5 separate regions of the Homo sapiens genome follow, and all the other regions are linked to region 1. Evidence: fine-mapped expression QTL. A gene starts in region 1. Each other region holds a variant in brackets. All regions are shown on one strand. Distances are between the middles of the regions.

Region 1 (4,000 bases):
GTCCCGGCTACTCGGGAGGCTGAGGCAGGAGAATCGCTTGAACCCGGGAGGCAGAAGTTGCAGTGAGCCGAGATCCACCACTGCACTCCAGCCTGGGCGACAGAGCGAGACTCTGTCTCAAAAAAATAAAAATAAATAAAGCGTTTCCTCAAGCAGAATTCCGCAGCACTGATGGCAGCAATGTACAGTTCACCTTAGCCTTCAGTCTTCCAAGTTTTTTTTTGTTTTTTGTTTTTTGAGACATAGTCTCACTCTGTCGCCCAGGCTGGAATGCAGCGGCGTGATCTTGGCTCACTACAACCTCTGCCGCCTGGGTTCAAGGGATTCTCCTGCCTCAGCCTCCCGAGTAGCTGGGATTACAGGCGCCTGCCATTGCGCCCAGCTAATTTTTGTATTTTCAGTAGAGACGGGATTTCACCACGTTGGCCAGGCTGGTCTTGAACACCTGACCTTGTGATCCGCCCGCCTCGGCCTCCCAAATTGTGGGATTACAGGCGTGAGCCACCGCGCCCGGCCCAGCCTTCCTAGTTCTTGTTAACCTCCTGACTAGAAGAGCTCCCACTTCTTCCCTAGGTGCTTCAAAGGTTCCGCAAGCTCTGCATTGGAATTTTCCCTTTTTATATAGAAAGGACCAACTCTTGATTATACGGGGTGCCTGGGGAGTGCAGTCGTTTGACACGTGTCTGGGTCAGGTCCCAGCTCCCATTCTCAATCAACAGTTTTGCTGTCATCCGCATCACACATTAGAGCATAAAATAAACTTTTATTTGTCAAAAGTGTTCTGCATAAATGCTTAAACAAAATGTGGTATAGCCATACAACTGAATATTATTTGGTCATAAAAGGAATGAAATCCTGATTCATGCTACAACATGGATGAACTGTGAAAACATGCTAAGTGAAAGAAGCCTGACACAAAAGGCCGCATATCATATGTTTCCATCTGAATATACGAAATAGTCATTAAAGGCAAATCTAGAAAGACAAAGTAGATGAAAGGTTGCCTGTGGCGGGGCCTGGAAATGGGCATTGACTACAACTGGGCATCAGAGGTCTTGGGGTAACGGAAATGTTCTAAAAGTGGATTTGGTAGTGGCTGTGCTGCTGTAAATTTACTAAAAACCACTGAATAGTACACTTAAAACAGGTGGATTTTATGGTATGTAAATTCTACTTCAATGAAGCTCTTACATTAAAAAATAAGTATAAATAATAAAAGCGGATTCTCCAGATTGAAAAAAAAAAAAATGAGAGGAATTACTTCTCTTCTGCAAGCCCTCCTTTTCGTAGACATACAATTGGAGACCTTGACGTTAGGAGGGCTTACCTACACAGTTCAGACTAAAGGATGAGTCTCCAGAATTCAACGCAGGTCGTATTCCACTCCACGTAATTTCGAAGTGTCAATCAGAATCTAATAACTTAATTTGTGTAGACAAATAGGCCAAGATTCTCAGGGGCTCAACCCAATATGAAAGGTAAACATCTTAATAAAAATACTGACGATCCACAACGGTCTTAGGTAGCGCAACCATGCCAAGGCGAGGCAAGATTTTTAAGAAGCTACAGGTTTAAAAGGCAATCTGGTTCTGAGAGTTCGCCGAACAGAATCCCCGCATTTCCAAAAACCAGCAGCGCAATATGCACAGACCGAGATAAGGCAAAGAATCGACGTCTTTTAAACCTGACGCCAGCACTGCCCCGGAAGCGCACCTAGAATTGAGTCTGTCTGGAGGCTCCGGGCCAGAGCAGGGCGTATTGTTTCACTCGGTGAATGCTCATTTCACGTAAAGAAAACCAGGCAACGGAACAAGCTGCCGGAGCGCGCAGACCCCCGCAGGGCCGCGGTACAGGCACGCTGTGTCCAAACAAGCGCCGGAGGCCCCGCGCCCACCTCCCCCGACCCGGCCCGGCCCCCGCAGCCCTCGCCTCGGGGCCTCGGACGCAACCGGCACACCTGAGCGAGCGGGCCGCCGCCGCTAGGCGGAGCGGGTCGGGGAGGCCGCGCGCGGGCGGCTGACGTACCTGCGCCGCCGGGAGCTCAGGGCCGGCGGGCCCGGGATAACGGCGCCTCCGCGGCGAACACGCCTGGGCACTCCATTCGGGGCTGTTTACTCCCAACTCTCGCGAGACTGGGCGACCGGGCCAGCGAGGCCCACAGCTGGGAGCCTCAGCTCCGCCGACCCAGCGTGCCCTGTCTGTCCCGCGCTCCCGGGGCTTGCGTGCGCGCTCTGGACGCCGTGGGCAGCGGGACCACGCCGGGAGGATGGACGAAGGTCTCGCGACATTTGCGGCGGCGGGGGCCGGTGGCAGGGTGGAAGCGGAGGGGCGTGGCCAGCGAGCTGCCAGGCGGCGAGAACGCGCTGGGGGAACCCTTGGTCCGCTCTGCGCGTCGCTCTAGGATCCCCGAAAAGGAGCACGGGCGCGAAAGCGGCCAGGCTGGGCCAGGATCTAGAAAGACTGCCTGGCGCAGGCTCCCTGCCCCCGCGGGCCTGCTGTCATGGACTCGTGGAGAGCTCGCTTCCCGCGCGGACCCTTCCTGCAGGGGTCCACGTCCAGGCACCGGCGGCTCGGACACCCCACCCCCGGCCGGGCACCTGCCCTGGGTGCCCCTTAACCCGGGCGGTAGCTCGTTAAGATGGCGAAGTGTCCGGTCCGGAACACGCGAAACCCCAAATCCCGCCTGCCCGACCTCCTGACCCCCGGCCCCACGGGACGACAGACTGGGCCTCCCGACGCGCAGCGCGCTGCCGGGACACCGGTGCGTGCGAAACGGAGGACCTTTGTAACGCCACGTGTTTGCTCTTTTTGAAAAAACAAGAATAAATGTGTTAAACTGTCTGAAAAGCTTGCCGCCTAAAAGATGTCTGGGTGACTTAGATGCTAGGATCAGTTTGTTTTCAATGTAAATGGACCAGCCCGGACTCCGTACGGCACTAGCAGGGGACTGAAAGCGTCTTCAGGTACTGCTGGTGGGCGGTGATGCGCTACAGGCCGATCAGACAGTTTTGTGTCTTTTGGAACTTGACACTGCACCACGGTAATGCTGAACTGCACCAATATTACAGATCACAGCGCATCATCTTCCTTCAACATGATTTAACACAGTTGACTTAATATGGTGGATAAATGTAGAATCACAAATTACCATACCCCACCTCAGGCTTCTACTTCGTAATTTTGAGCAGGTTGTTTAACCTCTTTGTACCTCAGCTTCTTCATTACAAAAATAGGGGTACTAGCCAGGCGGGGTGGCTCGCGCCTGTAATCCCAGCACTTGGGGAGGCCGAGGCAGCCGGATCACTTGAGGTCAGAAGTTTCAGACCAGCCTGGTCAACATGGGTGAAACGCCGGCTCTACCAAAAATATAAAAACTTAGCTGAGTGTGGTAGCGCATGACTGTAATCCCAGCAACTCAGGAGGCTGAGGCAGAGAATCGCTTGAACCTGGGAGGCGGAGGTTGCAGTGAGCTGAGATCGTACCACTGCACTCCAGCTTGGGCGACAGAGCGAGACTCTGCCTTAAAAATAAATAAATAATTTTTTTAAAAAATAGGGGTACTAATATCTACCTTAAAGGATGAGGGTTAAATTAAGTACACACATAAGCCCTAGCGCAGTGGCTTATGCCTGTAATCTCAACACTTTGGGAGTCTGTGGCGGGAGGATCACTTGAGCCCAGGAGTTTGAGACTAGTCTGGGCAACAGAGACATGTCTCTATAGTTGTGTTTGGTTTTGTTTTTACCAGGTGTGGTGGTGTGCACCTGCAGTCCCAGCTACTAGGGAGGCTGAGGTGGGAGGACTGCCTGAGCCCAGGAGGTCGAGGCTGCAGTGAGCCATGATTGTGCCACTGCACTCCAGCCTGGGCAACACAGCAAGACCTTGTCTCAAAAACAAACAAAAAGCATACTCATAAAGTGCTCGGCTCCTATATGATTCAATATGTGGTGGTGGATTCTTGAATCCTTTCCTGACTCAGATCTCATACGATTTTCTGAAC
Region 2 (4,000 bases), 42 kb before region 1:
GGAGGGCAAGGCGGGAGGGTCATGAGGTGAGGAGATCGAGACCATCCTGGCTAACATGGTGAAACCCGTCTCTACTAAAAATACAAAAAATTAGCCGGGCATGGTGGTGGGCGCCTGTAGTCCCAGCTACTCGGGAGGCTGAGGCAGGAAAATGGCGTGAACCCGGGAGACGGAGCTTGCAGTGAGCCGAGATCGTGCCACTGCACTCAAGCCTGGGAGAGAGCGAGACTCCGTCTCAGAAAAAAAAAGGCAAATCACCCAGTGAAGGTGTGGTGGAGCCATCTTCTCCTGAACCCCACTGGCAGCAGTCTAAGCTGACATAACTCCACTGGACAGAATTTGGTAGGATGTGCCAAGAGCCATCCTTGACTGTTCACACCCTCTGATTCAGGGAGCAAATCCAGGGAGTTTATGTTAAGGAAATAATTCAAAATAAAAGAAAACCATATATGCAATAATATTCAGTGAAATGTTTATAATTGAAAACTACCTAACAGTTCAAAGGAAAATAGCAAACAAATTATAATTTACTATTTCTATATAAACAACCATTAAGAAGTATACTGGTGCCATGCATATAGTTGAATTTTTCTTTTCTTTTTGAGATGGAGTGTTGCTCTGTCACCAGGTTGGAGTACAGTGGCATGATCTCGGCCCACTGCAACCTCCGCCTCCCAGGTTCAAGCGATTCTCCTGCTTCAGCCTCCCGAGTAGCTGGGATTACAAGCGTGTGTCACCACGCCCAGCTGATTTTTGTATTTTTAGTAGAGACGGGGTTTCACCATGTTTGCCAGGATGGTCTCGATCTCTTGACCTCGTGATCCTCCTGCCTCAGCCTCTCAAAGTGCTGGGATTACAGGCTTGAGCCAACACGCCTGGCAGCTGAATTTTTCAATATTTATGATATAATGAGAACCACCAAAAAAGTTGTGAATTTTTGCCAAGTGCACAATGATAACAAAAAAAATAAGTATTGCAGATAAGGGCTGGAAAAGAATATTTAAAAAACAGTGGCCAAGTTAGTATGCTGAGGCTGGAAGCGAGTTTTCTATGGTTTTTCCCTATTTTTTATTATTGTGATAGTGTCTACATAGTTAAGATTTTTAAAAATTTACAAAACAATATTAAAAAAAAAAGACCGTATCTTCCAAACACATTAAAGGATAGAATACTGGCTGGTGCGGTGGCTCACACCTGTAATCCCAGGACTCTGGGAGGCTGAGGTAGCTGGATCACCTGAAGTCAGGAATTCGAGACCAGCCTGGCCAACATGGTGAAACCCTGTCTCCACTAAAAATGCAAAAAATTAGCCAGACGTGGTGGCAGGCACCTGTAATCCCAGATACCTGGGAGGCTGAGCCAGTAGAATCGCTTGAACCTGGGAGGCGGAGGTTGCAGTGAGCCAAGATCATGCCATTGCCCTCCAGCCTGGGCAACAAGAGTGACACTCTGTCTCAAAAAAAAATAAAGAATGAAATACTACAACTGGGCCTTTAATTATAGGCGCAAAATTGTATAGATGAAAAATCAAATGTAATTAGCTGACTCAGGAGCCAAACTCAAGATGCCAAAGCAAAAAAGTAAAATTGGTTTCATTAATTTATACCCTGACTTATTCTGTAACAGACTTAGCATATAACAAATCACTACTTCCAATAGCCCTGGTACCCTAGACAGGGCTATTTCCTTTTTTTTTTTTTCCCAGACAAGGTCTTGCTCTGTCATCCAGGCTGGAGTGCAATGGCATGATCTTGGCTCACTGCAGCCTCAACCTCCTAGACTCAAGTGATCCTCCCACGTCAGCCTCCTGTGTATCTGGGACCACGGGCACACACCACCATCCCTGGCTAATTTCTTTATTATTTGTAGAGACAGGTCTCACTTTGTTGCTCAGGCTGGTCTTAAAGTCCTGGGCTCAAGTGATCCTCTCTCCTCGGCCTAGAACTTTTCCTTTTTTAACTTCAGCAGAAGTAACTATGGCCTAAAGGTCTGGGCTGTGTCTAAGTTCACCATCAAGTCAGAGACCAAGTCAGAGAGAAGTTTCACCTTATCTACAATTCTTCCTGTGACTCCCATGCCGTTGAGGATGGTGACATTAACAACTGTCGGCATTCCTCCATAGTAGATGGGCTGGGAGCAGTAGGGCCACATGTAGGGACACTCAGTCAGATCTATGTAGCTGGGGCTCAAACTGAAATAAAGAATACAGTGTTAGAGTAGATCATATGAGAAAACTACAATGAAGCAACACAACTGTACAAGACAGAGTTAACAAAGCAGACCTAGCTTCAGAAGGGCTTGCTTACAGCGCTGCCCTAGGCTGGCATCTGGGAACTTGGCTCTGGAATGCTCCTGCACAGATAAGGCCTCTGTGCCAGCCTGCTGTCTATACAGACAGTGTGATGTGCAGGGACACCTCTGCTTTTGCAAGTCTGGAGCTTTGGGAGTTGTCACTGGCAGAGAATGAGTACGTGACCAGCCCTAATGGAAACTTG[G/A]ACTTGAGTCTCTAGAGGGCTTCCCTGGGCAAAAACACGTACACATGTCAATGCAGCTTGCTGCTAGGAAAGGGGCCAGCTCTGTGAGACCCTGCCTGGCAGGAGAGAGGGGAGAGCTTAGGAAGCTGCGCCTGGATTTCTCCAGGCTTTCTCCGTGTGAGGCATCTTTTTCCCTTACAGAGCCGCTGTGCATCCTTGCTGTGCCACTATAATGAATCTTAGCTGGGAGTATGACCACAGGCTGAGTCCCGTGAGCCCTAAAGCACCGAGCCTGGGAGAGGTGCTGGGGACCCTGACATAATTTGTGTCAGAAGTGCTGACACAAGTGCTCTGGCAATTATGTTGGTTTCATGGTTTCCCCTTATCTGAACTGAGTTTGTGTTGGGTTCACATCACTCCTAGTGCAGCAGCGGTGTCAGCTACGCCCGAACAGGTGAAAAGACAGGAACAGACAAATGTTTCAGACAAGACGTGACCCACGATGGCCTCCCTGAGAGCACCAGGCATACGTGGATCCTGCTTCTCAAGCTGCACCCACGTGCAGTGGGCGGGCGGCTCTGCGCAACTGCTTCACCTCATTACAGGAGATGCCAGCCTTTCTCAAACAGCAACTACGGTATAAGGAGTACTTTTTATTAGTTTGTAATAACAAAGATGTATCTGGGCCAACTGAATTGCTATTTAAGAAACCAAATGGAATATCTTTAGGGATACTGTGACTTTCACAGGCAGTTATAATCAACACATATCACAGTTAAGTTATCTCAACAGATACCACCTTCACAAGTCTGAAGTTCACCAAAAAAAGAAAAAGAAAAGGAAATAGGTACTACCTAGTTTTAAAAATCCTGAATGGATCGGCCATGTGACTACAATTGTATGCATCAGCAAAGGTATCTGTTCTACTTGAAATGTGTTTGTAAACTTTGCTGGTAATTGTGCTCTGTAATCAGTTTAATTCGACTACTAATTCAACATGATTTAACTAGGAAACCATTATTAGCAAACAGAATTCAACATCATATTAAGAAAACAAAATAGCAAGACCAGTGGCATTTATTACAGATTGGTTCAATATTGGGAAACTCATTAATATCATAAACCATATATATTAATAGGTCTAAAGTATTCATATGATTACCTTTCTAGATGCTGAAAAAACATACAAAATTCAATCCACAGTCCTCATGAAAACGCTCAGAAAAACAGCACTAGACAGATAATCTAACACAATAAAAAATATATACATATATATATAGATATACACACCTTAGGGATAAATCCAGCATCTTACTTAACGGAGAAATACAAGAGGCATTTCCATTAAGATTAGGAACAACGTAAGGATAGCCACTCTCTCCCCTGCTGTTCAACACTGTGCTAGATATACCAGCCCATGCAACTAGACAGAAAATAATCAATGAAGCCTTAAGAATTGGCAAGGAAGATGTAAAACTATCTTTATTTCCATATGGTAGGTTAGTACACCTGGAAAACCCTAGAGA
Region 3 (4,000 bases), 55 kb before region 1:
ATGTCTTGGGCTCAAGTATATTATTAAAATAGTTTCATCTGTGTTTCTTTTTACTTTTTAAACGCAGCTCCTGGAAAATTTTAAATGATGCCTGTGGTTCCCATGAGCCTTCTACGGGCAGCGCTGTAAGGACCAGCACACCAGGGACTTAGACGCACTGATACCCACCCCACTAAGTGCCAAGCAGCTGGCGGCCCCACGGCACCAGCACAGGCCCCAGAGGCGGGTTGAGGCTCCACCACCACATACCGCCCAGGCGATCTCAGGCAGTTATCTAATTTCTCTCAGCTCTCATTTCCTCATCTGGAAACTGGGAATAATAACATCTATTTTCACAGGATTACTGAGAGGGGACAGTGAGGTAATCCATGGGAGCATCCCAGCCTGCTGCATGGGACCTGGCAAGTGCTCTAGAATGTTGGTGATTCTTCCTGAAGATCTGTAGGAGCCACTGTCCTCACCTGTGAGAGCGGGACGGTAAACACACTCAGAGTGGCGTGAGGGTCGGGGTGCACGTGGGAAAGCAGCTGCACACTGGGTCCTCGATCATGGCCCTCTGGGGACTAAGGATGGCCTCTCGGCAGGTTAGAGCCGCTGAGTGCTGCTCTACCCGCAGCCATTACGAAAACCACTCAGCGGCGCACACAAACTGGCCCCACTTGCTGGCAGGCACAGCCACTGGCTGAAGTAGCATCATGTTCAGCTGGATCCAATTCCCTCCCCAAGGCATCCTGCCCATCCACTCACCTTCCATCCTCTCTGGAGTGACTGAGCCTGCTCCACTGGGAGGGCGCTGGCGGTTCCCAGAGTGACTGAGGCTAGGCGGTGTCACCCCATACGATGTGTACTGGAGGAGGGCATCCAGAAGCCAAAAGCAGTCTGCGAAGTCAACAAGCCTGTTTAGGAATTCCTTTTTTTTTTTCCAGACAGAGTCACGCTCTTGTCACCCAGTGCAGTGGCGCAATCATAGCTCACTGCAGCCTTGAGCTCCTGGGCTCAAGTGATCCTCCTGCCTCAGCCTCCCAAGTAGCTGAGACTGAAGGCACATGACAGCATGCCCGGCTAATTTTTTATTTTTTGCAGAAATGGGTCTGGCTGGTCTCAAACTCCTGGGCTCAAGTGATCTTCTTGCCTCAGCCTCCCAAAGTGCTGGGATTATAGGTGTGAGCCACCACACGTGGCCCGGAATTTAGCTTTTAAGAAGAAATCTCTAAAGGAATTTTTTTTAAGTTAGTCCCCAAAAGTGGGGGAAATGGGAGTTCAGAAGTCACGAGTTTAGGTCAAAGTAAATCCAACATGTTCCAGATTCCCCTATTCTCATAAGACATGCATTCTCAGTGGCCCAGCCCAGCCAGATAAGCACACACAGCCATGACCTGACCAGGGCTCCACTCCCAGTGCCCCAGGGTTCCAGGTGGTCAGCACCACTGTCCACCAGGTTGCACCAACTGCCTGAGTGCCACACTCAGCTCCTCATGGATGGGGGCAGAATGGAGCTCATTCAGAGACAGTGAGACCATGTGACACCCACTGAGAAAAGAAGGGCCTGAGAGCGGGGTCTCAGGGGCAACAGGGAGAGGAGAACGGAGGGCCATGGCTCCTGCTGCATCCCAGAGGCTCTCCTGGGGAGAAGGAACTGTACTGACACCCCAGGGGGTGGAGGCAAGGCTCAACACCCATGCAGCATCTGTTCACTTGAGCTGGGCTTCGAGTCGGCAGGGCCCTGACCACTGGAAGTGTGACAGCAGAGAAAGGGCAATTTGTTTTCAGGGACACCTCAGAGTCGAGGCACTGGGCTAGCAACAGCTCCCGTTCACAAAGGATCCTTTCTGAGAGGGAAGGCGCAACCTGGTATTGAAACCTGGAGCTTCTGTTTCCATCTTGTTTCTCCTGTGTCTGCCCCTTCAAGTT[C/G]CATTAACATCAACCTGGACTAGACAAGATCCGTGTGAGAAAAATGCCATTAAGTACTTTCCTCTCATTAAAGGGCACTTCTGGTCAAGTGCTTAATGCCCCTGAAAGATGAAAAAAGCTGCCATTTTAAATGTAAGGCCTAGGACCACCCTCTCAGGCATTTACAATTTAATAAAGACTCTTACCAGGAGATCTCAGGTCTTAAAATCTCTGTGGAAATAAAACATTAACCTCCTTTAACTGTGACTTTAACCCTCACTTTTAATTTTAATTTTATTTTATTATTATTTTTTAAAACAGTGTCTTGCTCTGTCACCCAGGCTGGAGTGCAGTGGCACGATCTCGGCTCACTGCAACCTCTGCCTCCCGGGTTCAAGCAACTCTCCCACCTCAGCCTCCCAAGCAGCTGGGACTACAGGCACACGCCACCACGCCTGGCTAATTTTTGTATTTTTAGTAGAGACGCGGTTTCACTGTGTTGGCCAGGCTGGTCATGAACTCCTGACCTTGTGACCCACTCACCTCGGCCTACCAAAGTGCTGGGATCACAGGCGTGAGCCACCGCGCCCGGCCCATTTTTGATTTTTAAAAAGACCCATCCCAGTCTAGGGATTTACATAAATGCCAGGAATGTAGTCAACTTCAGCCTGAAACGGAGGGGCACACACACACCTCTCAGCGCACGCTGTTAGTGCCTCATTCTTGTCACTCACCACCCGCCCTGTGCCTCGAGTTCCCCAGTGGTCACAGCGCATTAGAAGGTTGCCTTTCAGTCCTGGTGTCATTATCATCTCACCAGGTAAAAACATGGAGCACTTTTACCATTCTTTCTCCCCTTTACAAAATGAGAAAAATAGTCTGTGCCCAACCTCAAGCCCCCAAATCCAACGGATGCATCGAGAGACTGACATAAAGACGCGGAGGGAAGAGGACTGGCATGCCTATTTGCCTCCCCTTCACGCCTCGAGATAACAAACGCTCTTCACTGATAAAGGCTAAGAAAAGCCCGAATTCCAGGTCTGGAAGGACAGCCAAGAGCCAGCCCTCCAGTAAAAGAGTGAGTCAGACCAGAGAAGGGCGCCCCCTCGTGGCAGTGCCCACAAAGTCCAGGCAGCACGGCGTAGGAAGCCTGGGAGGGGCAGGCCCCAAGGAAGTCAGGGAAGGGACTCTCCACCACAACGCGGGAGTCCCGCCTCCGCTGGCCTCAGGAAGGTGAAGATGGAGAAGAGGCATCATGGCCCCAACAAGTAGCTTTGTTTTGCTTATTAAATGTGTGCACACTCAGACACCTATCAAAATATTCCAAGCAATCAAAGTGACTGCAACATCTCCAGCTGAGCCTGGCTCAAGTGAACAGATGTCGGCTGATCTGCCAGCATCTCACGGGCGCCTTTCCAGAGACAAAGGGAAGAAAGGATCTGAGTGCCGAAGTCACAAAGTCCATCTGCGTTTTTCCTACCCTTCTGTCGGTGACTGTCATCCAAGCAATTGGAGTCCCCATACAGTACAATCCGGCCTCCACCCTCAGCTGGAATCTGATAAAGTCCCAAAATGGGGACGTTTTCAACAACTGCTGTTTCCTGCTTTAAAACCTCCAATCCTGAAACAACACAACAAAAAACAACAGCCATGAGAGTTTCCACTGAGCAGTGAGTTATTTCCTGATATTTCATCCACGTGACAAATAAACCACATTTACAAAATCTAATATTCAATTAAAACATTGCAAATTTTTAGAATAGAAAAGCCTTAAGAATAAGCCTTTTAGAATAGAAATGTCTTAAGTGCCATTGATTTGTTTTAGCAAAATTCACTTTGTGTGTATTTCCGTATCTATCCACTTTCATTTTTACTTGCCATGGCAGTACATAATATTTACAATTGCAAAGGTGCTGCCTCTATCTTAAAAAAAAAACCTAAATTGTGTCCCCTCTTATTATCCTGAAAGGCCTATGTTTTCAGACACCTACACAAAGGGCAGCCAGCAGATCTTGCTAAACACACAGGTTTCTCTATGAATACAGTCATATATACTAATACCCAGGTTTCACGTTTTATTATGAAAAGCTAGGACAAATGTAACTAATTT
Region 4 (4,000 bases), 36 kb before region 1:
CAGTGCCACCTTACCTAAGTTACCTGACGCTCTCAACCCGGACCAGCAGTGCCACCTTACCTAACAGAGCTACCCGATGCTCTCAACCCAGACCAGCAGTGCCACCTTACCTAACAGAGCTACCCGATGCTCTCAACCCAGACCAGCAGTGCCACCTTACCTAACAGAGCTACCCGATGCTCTCAACCCAGACCAGCAGTGCCACCTTACCTAACAGAGCTACCCGATGCTCTCAACCCAGACCAGCAGTGCCACCTTACCTAACAGAGCTACCAGACGCTCTCAATGCTGAGCAGGGTAAATTTTTAGCAATTTACCCTGAAGGAACACCTCCAACAAAACTAAGACACACAGGCCTGAGGTTATTCACTGCAAGTTTATAATTACAAAATACTGGAAACAACTTAAAAGCCCATATGTAGACAAGTAGTGGCTTAAACGATTGTACATTCACAGGATACGGCTGTGAAAAAGGAGAATCTCTACGCACTGACGTGGAGAGATTTCCAGGACGTTAAGTGAAAAAAGCAGAATCCAAAACAATATCCACAGCGATGCTATCCTTCTATGTATGTGCTCATTTGTGGGGTGGTGGGGGCAGGGGGAAGGATAAACCCAAACCTGATGTCATGGTTACCTAAGGCGTGTGCGGAAGCCTGGTAGAAAGAATGGGCGAGTGGGAACTGACATGGTTTGGATGCTCGCCCCCTCCCAATCTCACGCTGACGTGTAATCCCCCATGTTGGAGGTGGGCCTAGTGGGAGGGACTGGGTCCTGGGGGAGACCCCTCATGGGTGGTTTAGCACCATCCCTCTGGTGGTAACTGAGTTCTCACTCAGCTCAGGCAAGATCTGGGTGTTTAACAGTCTGGGACCTCCCCGCTCTCTTGCTCCCTCTCTTGCCATGTGATGTGCTGGCTCCCCTTCACCTTCTGCCATGATTGGAAGCTCCCTGAGGCCTCCCCAGAAGCAGGTGCTGGTGCTATGCTTCCTGTACAGCCTGCAGAACCAGGAGCCAACTGAACCTCTTTTCTTTATAAATTACCCAGTCTCAGGTATTTTTTTATAGCAGTGCAAGAACAAACGAACACATCCTTAGAACCACAGTCATGTTTCACACACCCAATAACAAGTTATAATCAACGAGGATGTGGGGGAAATCTAAAAAGGAATACAAACACGAATAAATGAGTCCAACTGTATTAAAAAGACACCAAGGAAAGAATTAACCTAAGTAACTGAAAAAAACACTATAACTGTATTCTGTAGGGCCAAAGATAATGACGCACTGTCACAAATACTATATTCAAAAAACTCACAAGGACATGGGCTAGCAGTTCCAAAGCTGCTCAGTACGTATACACTACAACTAAGCAAATAAGCCAACATATTGTGGATAATGAGAGCCAGGCTTCTCACTGTTGGAGAATGGAGTTAGAAACAGAGGTAACATGACCATCTCTGTAAATAAGAAATAAATAAATAAATAGAAACAAGGATAGGGAAAGGCTGGAATGAACACTGAGATACTGGCTGGAACCTGGAGGTGGCATGAACTCATGTTTCCAGTACATACACAGATAGGCAGATACAGAAGCAGTCGTATGTGTCTGTGCACGTGTCCACACGTTGCCTAGCTCTGTCCGAAGAGCGCAGTAACCACTGTGAGCACAGCAGCTTGGAGCACCCCGAGTGCCCAGGTCTTGATTTCTTTAGAAGAGGCCATCAGCAAAGAGCTGCTTGGAGACAGAACTGATACCAAGGCTAGAGCACAGAGGTGCATGACAGGACATCCTGTGCTGCCAGGAAGACAGAAAGTGCTCAGAAAAGGCTGGACACATGCTGAAAACACACATAAGCCAACTAGATGGAGCTCCCAACAGCCAACTCGGGGACAATTTGAA[C/T]GACCCACTAAATGATATTAATTATAATCCACAGAGTAAAATAAATATCTATGTGTCCACACTGATGTAAAGAACTGAATAAATAAATGGGACAGAAAGGACAGCTCTTCCTTCCAGGAGAGTTCCAATTAATCAATGTAAATGGAATGAAGGAAAAAGAAAATCATCACGTGTCAAAGTTGTCAGGAGTAATCACCAAAGGCAAGAACCATCAAGGCATGCTAACATGAGTGAGTGGAAGTATGTGACGAAACAAGGCCATCTCGAAACATGCCCCCACAAGACACTGAGAAGTCACAAAGGAAACACGGGCTGCACAGTGGAGACACCTGGCAGGAGCCACCTCTGGCCCCACAGGGCCAGCAGCTCAGGTCTCCTCTGCAGGACACTGCTGGCTGACACCCGCAGCTGCCACCCTCAGGTCCTCACACGTCTGTGCCAAGGCCACGCTTCCCCTGGGGCTGCTCCCAGCCAATGACTAAGCACACAGGAGGCACCAGGGCAGGCCCATTCTGGGGGGACACAGGACTCCTCCAACAGGCAATCTGGTTCAAGGATTTCCCATCAGCCAAAACTTTTTCAGGCCTGTGCGAGCCTCTTCCTCCCCAGTCCTCCTAACTTTTCGGTGTCAGATCAGCACTGCAGTTCCTGCCTATTCCCACACCCTTCCCTTTATCCTTCAGAGGCCCTCACTCCCCACATATCTTTTGAACATGTAATCCTAGCTTGACGTCTGCTTCTTGGAGGACCCAGACTGACAGACCACATTAATCAAATGATGAAAATGAATACCCCCAATAACAAGATGAAGGAAAACGGAGGAACCGTCTGTGATTAGAGGAAACCAAGAAGACAGGACAATGAAATCCAATGTGGGATCCTGGACTGGATCCCAGAGAATGGACCTGTGGGACAATGGGCGGAATCTGCGTGAAGCCTGCAGGTCAGTCAGCAGTGCTACATCAAGGTTCATTTCCAGACTCTGACGCTCATACTGAGGTTATGGAAGATACTAAGGTGAGGGAAAGCTGGGTGAAGGACTCAGGGGTTCTCATGAACTATTTGTGAAACTTTGCTGTAAATCTAAAATCATTTCAAAATAAGGGTGAAAACAAAGCAGGGCCCAGGCCGGACGGGAGTACCACAGGAGCTGGCGAGATGTATGTGGTCTGCAGGTGAATTACAGCACAGTGTCAGTGTTTGTATGACAGTTTTAACAGCTGTACTCCACTCATCTGAAATGGTGGCATCAGGGGAAACTGGGCAACCTTGTAGGACAACTCTCTCCTATTTCTGCAAAATTTCTGTAAACCTAAGATTATTTCAAGAGTCTAAGAAAGTAAACAACAAAAGCAAAAAAACCACTCAGAAATCATTACTTTTAACCATTTATATTAAAGATCACATCAGTAAGCGAAAGCAGCTACCAGTTCTGCCAGCAGCACCCTGTAGAAGCAGCAGCAAAACCTCTCCAAGCACCCCGAGAATTCTGTGCTTAGTCATCATTTTCTGTTTTGAGGCTTGTATTTTGTGCAGAGGGAAAATTCGCCCAGAGCCCAGTGAAGGAGAGAAAGACCCATCGGCAGGGCGGTGCACTGACCTTGCCTGTGGCTTGTAGCTGTTGAGGATCTGATAGGCTCTGAGCAGATCGAGCTTGCCGTGGCCTTGCTCAAACATGTTGACCCCGGGGAGCCTCCGGGCTGACGCGATCAGGGCCTGCTTCATACTGGCGGGATTCACCAGCTCACGCTTCTGGACTGTGCTGGAGGAAAAATCAAGAATTGCCTATTTTCTCTCAGTAAAAGAATGGAAATTGGACCACTAAAACCTAACCTACAAACGTGCACACAAGAGGCCTGCAGTCTTGTTTAGTATCCAACAGGTGCTTGTCTGGCACAGCCTGCATGAGAGAATGAGTGCACACTCATCTCTGTACCCAATCCAGGACTGACCACTCCGCAACCTTCTACGGGACCCACTTATGCTAAATGCATCAGTAACACATATTTTTGTGATAATTCAACTAAACAACCACATAGGCTGCAGAAGGCATGAATGTATAGGAGGTACTGACTCCTCTGGGGAGAGGAAGCCTGC
Region 5 (4,000 bases), 29 kb before region 1:
AGTATTTTAATTTTGCTGACATGCCAGACTGGAAAGTGGACACTGGCTTATCACCAAGACCAGAAACTGGAAACTGCTTTATCTCTAGATAAGTTAAAATTAGAAATATGTTAGAAAAATTAGAAAATTAAAATGTAAAAAAACCCAAACATGTTTCTTTACAAGGAAAAAAGTACACGGTATGAGTGGATGTTTCAAACGGTTGTAAAAGAGGAAATAAGAAACCACTGAGAAGGAACAAGATAACCACACGACTAACTTGGGATAACGTTTTAATAAGTACTTGCTTAAGCTTCTTAAGAATTGGGGCAAAACGAAAATTAGAATAGGATCTCATATTCTGTCAGAAAACAGGAGCCCAATTTGAAGGGAAGCCCTTTTCTGACCATCAAACCCAAGGACCATGGATGCACATACTGGGATACCGAGTAAAGGCATCCTCCACTGCAGCTGTGATGATGGAAGGACATTTCTCAAATGCCATTAAAAAGCTGGCTGGTGATGAAGGCCATGGACGTGACATCTCATCACGGTTTGGTGAAAGCGTTTACACGGGGAGCTGGGGACAAAGTGGATGACATCTCACCACAGTTCGGTGAGAGCATTTACACAGGGAGCTGGGGACAAAGTGGTGGATGCAGTTTCCCATTATCCGGCAGCACAAGGAACATGCTGAGGGAGCGTGGATGGGAGGACACGCAGCCTGCCCTGCACAGACTGTCACATGAGAGAATGGTCCCCAGCCAACAGGTCAGCTCCAGGAAGAGGCACGTGAGTGTGGGAGGCGGGGACCCCTGGTGGGGCTGAGTGGCGGGGACGCTGGGGGCTGACGCTGTCACAGGACAAAGGCTCAGGCAGAAGGCTATCCTGTAAAGTGGCTACAGTGTGGACGAGGCCCACAGTGTTCCCAGGCAGTTGGGAATCTTTCCAGGGACTTATCTGAGGCCTCCGAGTGTGGCATGTGACGTTAAACACCAAGAGATGCTCTGACCCTGAAGAATGAGAAGGGCAGATGCTCCCCTCGGCCACAGCGAGGGCAAAGGTGCCCAACTGCTGTTCTGCACGAGCGTCTAATTTTTCATCAAACTTTGACAGGTAAAGGTGGGTGAATGTGCTGCATAATTAAACCCCAAACAGCTGAATTATTAACTGTAGCAGTTATTTTGAATTTGTCCAGCTAAATACAATTGTTTCTGTGTTAGCAGAGTTGATATTAAGCTGTTCTCAATGGTTTCTCCAACTTCTTAAGGCTCCCCTCCCCCAAAAAATATCATCTCACCTACCACTGAGGAGGACTGCTTACCACTACTAGATAGGGTAAACGGGCAGGAACCCAATTCACCTAAAGGTGAGTTCCTCAGAAATCAATTAATAAGTTAAACTGGGAAACACCGCTTAGAATCAGCCGGTGCTCATCACAGCAGCTGTGGACTTGCCAGAGTGAAGTGGCAGATGCTGACGGGGCCCAGATCTCTCGTCCTCACGGCTGGGCAGGCACTCACAGCCCCGGCTATTCCCATGTGAATGTGAGGGTGTCTGTGCACTTACAAATACACCCCAAGGCTCGTCAACAACCGGTGCCACTAGCCACAGTAGTTTGTCCAGCTAAATACAATTATTTAGCAAAGAAGAGCGTACCCAGGTAGTCATTCCCCTTGAAGAAAAGCGGGCGATGTTATCTTCAAAGTCAATGCCGCCTACTCCAATCACATCCATTTGATCAGCAGGGTTATTCAGAGTGCTATATTGAGAC[CA/C]AAAAAAAAAAAAAAGAAAAGAAAAAGAAAAAAACAAGAGAAATAATTTAAAATGGATGATTCAAACCAGGGCGAATACTCCCAGAACAATCTAACACTGTATGAGCTGCTTCTGTGGGAAGACGTGTGCAGCTCCTCACGGCTGTCCTGTGAAACGCATGATCCTGCCACGTTCATGCTGTGCTCACATTACGCCCTCTCACCTGCAACGCCCCTCCTTTCTTCTCCTCCCTGTCAACTTGGCACACTGGGGCTCAAGGCTCACGTTTTCCCTCCAGCAATCCAAGCCTTAAGCATCTGTACTTGCCTTGAACCTCACAACACTTAACACAATCACAATTTATCACCTAACGACACATTCTCACATCACTTTCAAATTGTTCCCAGCACATTCATCTTAACTCCCCAGCTAAATCACACACTTCTCCTGGAAGAAACCATAACCACACATTTACATCTGCCAAGGTCAGGAAGTGGTAAGTTTTCGATTGACCTGTGGTGGTGTTCTACCCTCCTCATAGGGAACTGTAGAAGGACTATCATTACTCTGTAATCTTGAGCTCCTTAGAGTCTCTCCAATACCTTAAGTGCACTAGATCTGCAAAGAAATTATAGTGAAATAAATAATGGCAAAAATGTGTAAACCGTAAAGTCAAGATAAAGATGAACCATTTGAAAATATGAGACACTCAGTTATAAAACTGCATTGCTAAGCTTTATTATGGCTCCACTACCAAAAAAAATGAACTCTTTGACAAATCAACAACTACATACAACTGATTCCAAGTGGCTTAAGAGATAATAGCAGCATGAAGTTCTCCTTCTAGAGTGTGTTTTTAACTGACAATTCCCAACACACCGAGAAAAAGTGGTACTGCCTCCTCAGCCCACTGGCCACCAATATCCTACCAGCTGGTCATTCAGAGGAACGAATAATGATTTTCTGATGACTGATGCTAGATGTTTACACATTCCCAGGAACTCAAGGAGCAGAGGCTGGTACAGAAGTCACTGACAGAAACTCCCACTGAAGTTGACCAAAAAAATACCACCTTCCCACCCTCCTCTACCTGCTAAGCCCTATAATGCTTAGTGTACTTTAAACCCTTAAAAAATAAGGGAACGCATCAAGAAATCATTGCTGGTATTGAAAAGGAGGGACGTGAGGCTGCAGGCTTGCTGGCACCACAGAGTCTAGGAGCACCAAGGGCACAGGACCCAGACAAAGAGACCACAGCAAAGGGGACCGGAGGATGTGTGCCTCATTCCCAGAGGGGCTGACGTATGCATGTTACTGTCCTCAGACCAGCCCTGGAAGCAGTCCCACCAGATGCCCAAGCAGAAAAAACCACACCCACCACAAGCTGGGCTGCCGTGATCACATGCCACGTTCTGTCACTTCAACAGCCAGCAGGTGGCCAGGTCTGTGTGAGGCAGCATGAGCGTACACACAAGGTGGAGATGGGGCCTTCCTGGCAAGGCTCTGCTCCTTCAACACACCATAAACTCACAACTCTGGTAAGAAGCTACGGAGTGCAACCACCCACAAAAGCCACAGGGTTTCAGAACGGCAGCCAGCGTGTGACAAAACAGTCCGAACAGCATGCGAAAGAGCTGGGAATCCAGACAGGTATGGCCAGGAGGATGGGCAGAGGGATGGGGTGCGGAAGACCTGAGAGAAACAGAAGGAGGACACTCATTCCAGGAAGGTGTACATGGGGAAGTGGAAGATCAAGGTGAACTGAGATTGTGGCTGGAGTTGGCCAACTACGGCCCATGGGCCAAACCAGGCCCACACCTGTTTTTGCAAATACAGCGTTCCTGGAACACAGTCATGTTCATTTACACATATATCACCCGCAGCTGCTTTCACACAATAACGCCTAAAATATTTATTATCTGACCCTTTACAGAAAAAGTTTGCAATTCAGCCTAGAATACTGAAGACCTTGAAAAACAAAAGAAAAATGTGGATTTCATCTATTAGGCAATAATAAACTGCTGCAGATTCTTGATTAGAAAACTGCTACAATATATGTTTGAACAGTAGAAATACGCACAAAAAAGAAAAAGAGCAGCTTCCATTCAAAGAGCATCATCAGCATTCATGGTGCTCTCCCCCTGCTGTCTGATTTCAGTCTCATAGGTACTCTGCAGGCTGCTCTCTACTCCCATCACAGGTGAGGGAGCTGAGGCTCAGAGAAGTGACGGTGCCTCAGCCGTAAGTGGCAGGTCGGACCTGTCTG

Alleles and levels. Alleles are on the strand shown, and positions count from the first base shown. SD is a standard deviation of normalised expression in the study named. Not every link is listed here.
With allele G in place of A in region 2, the expression in monocytes of the gene that starts at base 2,233 in region 1 is lower (moderate effect, 0.68 SD a copy in CEDAR).
For the expression in monocytes of the gene that starts at base 2,233 in region 1, G is the high allele of the variant in region 3 and C is the other (moderate effect, 0.59 SD a copy in Fairfax 2014).

The links. PIP is the estimated chance that this variant, and not a neighbour inherited with it, causes the effect.
Region 2: its variant is the best candidate, but not a certain one, in a credible set for the expression of MBTPS1 in monocytes (CEDAR, PIP 0.88).
Region 3: its variant is the best candidate, but not a certain one, in a credible set for the expression of MBTPS1 in monocytes (Fairfax 2014, PIP 0.89).
Region 4: its variant is the best candidate, but not a certain one, in a credible set for the expression of MBTPS1 in testis (GTEx, PIP 0.80).
Region 5: its variant is the best candidate, but not a certain one, in a credible set for the expression of MBTPS1 in monocytes (Quach 2016, PIP 0.89).

Annotation. Positions count from the first base shown.
Region 1 is chr16:84,114,710-84,118,709 of GRCh38, forward strand. MBTPS1 (membrane bound transcription factor peptidase, site 1) reads right to left here and starts at 2,233. Exons shown (of 23, transcript NM_003791.4): 1 at 2,026-2,233. It overlaps MBTPS1-DT (MBTPS1 divergent transcript), which reads left to right and starts at 2,334. Exons shown (of 1, transcript NR_186375.1): 1 at 2,334-4,000. RefSeq lists silencers at 1,724-2,153, 2,554-2,653 and an enhancer at 2,804-2,963.
Region 2 is chr16:84,072,551-84,076,550 of GRCh38, forward strand. MBTPS1 (membrane bound transcription factor peptidase, site 1) reads right to left here. Exons shown (of 23, transcript NM_003791.4): 12 at 2,047-2,191. Among named protein-coding and RNA genes, the nearest start is that of SLC38A8, 32 kb to the left of the region's middle. The variant G/A (reference allele first, on the strand shown) is at 2,496.
Region 3 is chr16:84,059,935-84,063,934 of GRCh38, forward strand. It overlaps MBTPS1 (membrane bound transcription factor peptidase, site 1), which reads right to left. Exons shown (of 23, transcript NM_003791.4): 19 at 3,371-3,511; 20 at 748-879. Among named protein-coding and RNA genes, the nearest start is that of SLC38A8, 19 kb to the left of the region's middle. The variant C/G (reference allele first, on the strand shown) is at 1,912.
Region 4 is chr16:84,078,244-84,082,243 of GRCh38, forward strand. MBTPS1 (membrane bound transcription factor peptidase, site 1) reads right to left here. Exons shown (of 23, transcript NM_003791.4): 11 at 3,504-3,665. Among named protein-coding and RNA genes, the nearest start is that of MBTPS1, 37 kb to the right of the region's middle. The variant C/T (reference allele first, on the strand shown) is at 1,904.
Region 5 is chr16:84,085,720-84,089,719 of GRCh38, forward strand. It overlaps MBTPS1 (membrane bound transcription factor peptidase, site 1), which reads right to left. Exons shown (of 23, transcript NM_003791.4): 9 at 1,639-1,741. Among named protein-coding and RNA genes, the nearest start is that of MBTPS1, 29 kb to the right of the region's middle. The variant CA/C (reference allele first, on the strand shown) is at 1,754.